2 linked regions of the Homo sapiens genome follow. The protein of the gene in region 1 interacts with the protein of each later gene in a pairwise test. Each region holds a gene or a part of one and is shown on either strand. Other genes may lie near its edges.

Region 1 (2,509 bases):
ACTTGAATTTTAGTTTTGTATTCTTAAGTTATTATTTTATTTAGTCTATATAGACAGAAGCTAAAAATTCAATTTGCCCACAATTAGCAGTGAAGGAAACAAAGCAAGCCAACTCTCAATAGAAGACAGATGGCCAATATGCATATGAAGGAATATTTCAACCTAGCTGGTTATAAAAGAAATACAGACACAACAATCATAAAATTGTGTTTTTCACCAATGAAATTGGAAAACACCTTTAAAATAAAGTATCTGTCAAAGGTATACGAAATGGGAATTCTTAATCAAACACATCTGGTGGAAATAGATAATTTGAAAAAAAAAGTAGGTAAATAGAACCATTCTGAAAAACAGTATGGCAATGATATGAAAGGCCTTAAAAATACTGGAAATTAACATTTGCCCCTATAATTCTACCAAATAATTAATTCTGTTTCTGAAATAATCAAAAATATGCACAAAGATTTACATACAGAGGTGCTCTGTTGCCAAAATTATTGTAGAGAAAAGTGGAAAATAACCTCAATGCATAATAATATAAAATTTTAAAGTAACATAGAAGTGCAATTATATAATAAATGCTAAGAAATATTAAAAGTAACACTATCAAATATCCTTTAAAATATAAGATAATTATATATATATATAATATATATGCACACACACAAAGGCAAGTTTCAGAACCTATGCACAATATGATTCCAGTAATGTAATGTAATGATAAACAATGTATACAAAATATTTTGTAGTAAAAAACTAGAATAATAAGCGTTTTTTAAAGTTTTTCCATATTTCTTAATGGCATATTTCTTCATGTTAATGTAATTTTGATCTTCAAAAGCCTCAAAGCTAAAAGAAAGTAAAATTAAGTTCAACTCTTTAAAACAAGAATACTTTATCAGACAAATTGGTATAGATAAAGTGACAGATTAAAAATAAAGCAGCACTGGAGAGCAGGCCCACATATTACAGACTCACTGTCATGCAATATTCCCCAGCAGGGCTGGTGTTGAAAATATAATAACAGAAGGCTTTGGTGATACCTCATAAAGCTTGTGTTCCAGTGACAAATAGCAAGGGTAATCAGTTCAGATTTAGCAACGAACTCAAATAAAAGTTAATTAGGAAAATGGGGACTCTTTACAGAGTCTAAATGTCAAACAAATTAAAGAATAATGGGTACACTAACATAAACAAGAACCAGGAAAGAAGCCTCTTGGCTGGACCAACTCCCAGTGGAGAGGGTACATAAGAGCCCCAGAGAAAGGAGAGATATTCACACCTCAGAAGCCTTATCCTTCTTTTCAATCAAACCCATAAATACCACAGACTCTAATAGCCATGGATTGCTGTGCCTCTCGAGGCTGCAGTGTCCCCACCGGGCCTGCCACCACCATCTGCTCCTCTGACAAATCCTGCCGCTGTGGAGTCTGCCTGCCCAGCACCTGCCCACACACAGTTTGGTTACTGGAGCCCACCTGCTGTGACAACTGTCCCCCACCCTGCCACATTCCTCAGCCCTGCGTGCCCACCTGCTTCCTGCTCAACTCCTGCCAGCCAACTCCAGGCCTGGAGACCCTCAACCTCACCACCTTCACTCAGCCCTGCTGTGAGCCCTGCCTCCCAAGAGGCTGCTAATGGATGGCTACTTTGCTCAGTGCCTGAGATTGAAAAAGTCAACATAGAAGCTTTAGCATTCACCTATCTCAGTACCTACAACTAATGTACTCTGCTTTAGAAATTGGAACAAGGATGGTACTACCACAATCACCCCCTGCAAAAAAAAAGAGACCAAGAAACTTTCAATGACCATTCAGCTATAACCAACTGCAGTTTGAATCAGTGGATGCCTATAGCTTCCTGAAGCTGTTCGATTCCTTCATATTAAAGTGTCTCTTTCTGTGGGTGGTTTGGGAATTCTGTTTTCAGTCTTGGGTGGTATCTTTCTGAAAATTAAGGAAGTTCTTCATGATTATCCTAATAAATTTTACATCTCTGGCATAGCACAAGTGTCTACAATTACTTCTGTTTATTTCTGTTCATTCATTAAATGCGTTTCTTAACTCTGAACATTGGCATTTAAAGAAAAACTGGAAACATTAGTGAAACTGAAAATGGTGGCAGTATGGACAAAAATTTCTTAATTTTGCTGTTCTTGCTGTTTTAAGAAAATTAAACATCCTTGCATGTAAGATGGTCTAGTACATCGGCATATTTGAAAGTAGACTTTTCCTGACTTGTCCTCCCAAAAAATGGTTTCAGACAGGTTGAGAAATACTGAACATTACCCAAACACCAAATATGACAAAATATATAAACTAATCCAGGTGACATGATCTATTTATGAAAAAAATATAATAATGTCATTATTTATTCAACTAAGATTTATTAAATGTCTATTGTGTGTCCTGTGTTTTATTGTCTCTGCTGAAAATAAGCTAACCATCTGGCAGGTGAAGCAAATACAAACACAACATCCATTTGTTTCTTCCTACGGTTAATAATTATC
Region 2 (3,500 bases), about 12 Mb from region 1:
CTATTTAAAAAGAAAATTTCTTTCCAGCATACTTCATACATATCACAAGGTTGTCATGAGAAAAACTTTATGTAGTTAAACAAGATTTTCTTTTCTTTTTTTTTTTTTTTTTTGTTATTAAAACTTGCGGGCGGGAGCACAGTGGCTTCTAAGCCGTTTTTTCATTGTTTGGTGATTTCCAGTATCTGAGTCGCTACATACTAGTAATCTTAGGAAGAATTATTCTTGTTAGCTTTGGTTCAGCTCAGTTTGGAGATTGGATTTTTTGCTATTTCAGATTGCTCATCTTTAATTGAAATCTGAAAAGTTGTGACTAATGGGCCCAAGGATACAAACCTTTGTTTAACCTGTTAGCATATTAAATGATACAGGTAGGTCTTATCCAGAGTTAGGTAAGGAGATAAAGTTATATCTGTTAAAAATGATGAGAAGAGCCTTTATTTAGGAACTTTATGCTTTTCTTTCTTTCTTTCTTTCTTTCTTTTTTTTTTTTTTGAGACACAGCCTTACTCTGTGGCCCAGGCTGGAGTGCAGTGCAGTGGCATGATCTCGGCTCACTGCAACCTCTGCCTCCTGGATTCAAGCGAATCTCCTGTCTCAGCTGGGATTACAGGCATATGCTACCATGCCCAGCTGATTTTTTTTTTCTTTTTTTTAGTAGAGATAGGACTTCACCATGTTGGCCGGACTGGTCTCAAACTCCTGACCTCAAGTGATCCACCTGCCTGGGATCCTAAAGTGCTGGGATTACAGATGTGAGCCACTGTGCCTGGGATTTTTCTGAGGAAAAAAGCTTTTAGAAAACATCCTAAGCAATAATCTCTTTCTTGCTGTTTCATAGTTAAAATTGTGCCACCAAAAATTTGATTTGATTGGCTATCATAGCTTTTCCAGCAGCCAAAAAATTTTTAAAAATGTAACCCTGTGGAATCTAAGAACTCTTAAGAGTTCTAAGAAATCTAAGAGGCCGGTGTGGTGGCTCTCACCTGTAATCCCAGCACTTTGGGAGGCCCAGGCGGGCAGATCACTTGAGGTCAGGAGTTCGAAACCAGCCAGGCCAACGTGGCGGAACTGGGCATCGTGGTGCATGCCTGTAATCCCAGCTACTCTGGAGGCTGAGTCAGGAGAATCTGGGAGGCGGAGGTTGTGGTGAGCTGGGATCACATCACTGCACTTCAACCTGGGCCACAGAGCGAGAATCTGTCTCAAAAAAAGAAAAAAAATAACTGTTATAAGATGTATTCTCTCGTGGTACAAGTTTTGTGCCAGTCTGTTTTAGGAATGATTATGCCTTGAGTATGTTTTCTTGGGTTACTTTAATACAGGAGAAGAAAATGCCTTTATTTGTTCAGTTTTAGTATTTGTACTTTTTTTTCTAATGTAGAATGAGTAAGTCCTGTTGTGAATCTAATAGACTTCTCCATTAATTTATTTTGGAACAATGGTTCTCAGACTTATAAAAATGGCAGTATTCCTATTAGACTCCTCACTTCCTGCTGCCTTAAATGTGTGTGGAGTGTCCTTCTATTGTGTATCTTTCTTTTTTCTTTTTTTTGGAAGTGGAATTTTGCTCTTGTTGCCCAGGCTGGGGTGCAGTGGCCCAATGTGGGCTCACTGCAACCTCTGCCTCCCGGATTCAAGCCATTCTCCTGCCTCAGCCTCCCAAGTAGCTGGGATTACAGGCGTGCACCACCATGCCTGGCCAATTTTGTATTTTTAGTAGAGACGGGGTTTCACCATGTTGGTCAGGCTGGTCCTGAACTCCTGACCTCAAATGATCCACCCACCTTGGCCTCCCAAAGTGCTGGGATTATAGGCATTAGCCACTGCACCCGGCCTGTATATCTGTTTCTAATGACTTGACCTCAAGATGCTTTTATGAACATTTCATAAAAAGGTAGATAACTAATAGCACCATTTTGTTACAGTGGAAAACTATTTGAATCACCTATAATAGAATTGACTTTTTATGGTAGTTGAAGGTTTTTTTTTCTTTTCTTCTTGAAAGAGGGTCTCACTTTGTCACTCAAGCTAGAAGGCAGTTGTGCCATCTCAGTGCATGTTCACTGCAGCCTCGACCTCCTGGGTTCAAGCTATCCTCCTCCCTCAGCTCCCCCAGCTGGGAGTATAGGCACATGCCCCACGCCCAGCTAATTTTTGTATTTGTAGTAGAGACAGGGTTTCTCCATGTTGCCCAGGCTGGTCTTGAACTCCAGCAGTCTGCCTGCCTTGGCCCTCCCAAAGTGCTATGTTTACAGACATGATCCACTGGCAGTTGAAGACTTTTAATTAAACCTGAATACCATAACACTAAAAAATTGGATTCTTTTTATTGTTGTTTTGTTAGTAAATATTTTCTCATTGCATCTTTTGAGTCAAGGCAGTATTACATAGTGATAGGAAACCATGGATTGCAGATAGACTGGCGGTCAGATTTCCAGTTCTGTCACTTTGACTTGGGCAATTTACTTCATCTCTCTTAAAGTCTTTTTATCTAAATGTAAAATGAAGAAAGTATGTTTTATAAAGGTTGGAAACATTGGTACGTAGATATTTTGGTTTCACGTATTAACAATATCCAATATCTGGGAAATGTCAAAATGAAATTTAAGAATACTTTAGAAAAAGTTGACAAGTGTTAGATATTTGTCTGATAGATGCCTTGGAAACTGCTGATAGTGACTACCAGCTATTTATGGTTTTGTAGAAATGAAGTCTTTAATTTCCTTGTAATAATTACTGTTTCAATAAAACTTGATTTTTGCCCAGAGGGCATCTCTGCTCTGAATTGTAAAGAAAATTTTAGGCCGGGCGTGTGGCTCACGCCTGTAATCCTAGCACTTCGGGAGGCCGAGACGGGCGGATCACAAGGTCAGGAGATCGAGACCATCCTGGCTAACATGGTGAAATCCTGTCTCTACTAAAAATACAAAAAGAATTAGCCGAGCGTGGTGGTGGGCGCCTGTAGTCCCAGCTACTCTGGAGGCTGAGGCAGGAGAATGGCGTGAGCCCGGGAGGTGGAGCTTACAGTGAGCGGAGATAGCGCCACTGCACTCCAGCCTGGGCGACAGAGTGAGACTCCGTCTTGAAAAAAGAAAATTTTATAACAGCCTTGTGAGAGTGATGGGTAGATTGATTCTGTTAGATGAGAGGTATTTGGCATACTGCTTAAGAGGTCTTGTCTTCTCTGGCCTCAGACTTTGGTTTGAATCTTCGCTGAGTTCTACCTCTTGCTTTGCTTAGCAGTAGGTTGCATTTCCTAGTCTGTAAAATGGGGCTGACAGGTGTCTTCTCATAGAGATGTGAAATAATATAAAGCTACAGCTCATAGCATAGTGTCTAGCATACAGTAAATAGTTCTTAAATGTTAGGTATTAGTGTAATTTACATGTTGTGATTTTTTTTTTTAATCCTTTTTTTCCCCTCCCCTAGGCTATGGTGAACTAAACGGTAATGCTGGAGAAAGAGAAATATCTTTAAAGAACCTGAGTTCTGATGAA

Evidence for each region. Proteins that work in one complex are often made in the same cells at the same time.
Region 2: the proteins of KRTAP3-3 (region 1) and NUFIP2 interact in binary tests that used the Homo sapiens proteins (3 or more experiments, as listed by UniProt).

Annotation. Positions count from the first base shown.
Region 1 is NC_000017.11:40,992,930-40,995,438, reverse strand, and holds KRTAP3-3 (keratin-associated protein 3-3), read left to right. Parts: upstream 1-1,274; 5' UTR 1,275-1,341; coding exon 1,342-1,638; 3' UTR 1,639-2,009; downstream 2,010-2,509. UniProt on the Homo sapiens protein: In the hair cortex, hair keratin intermediate filaments are embedded in an interfilamentous matrix, consisting of hair keratin-associated proteins (KRTAP), which are essential for the formation of a rigid and resistant hair shaft through their extensive disulfide bond cross-linking with abundant cysteine residues of hair keratins.
Region 2 is NC_000017.11:29,287,649-29,291,148, reverse strand, and holds part of NUFIP2 (FMR1-interacting protein NUFIP2), read left to right. Parts: intron 1-114; exon of another isoform or gene 115-371; intron 372-3,432; coding exon 3,433-3,500. UniProt on the Homo sapiens protein: Binds RNA.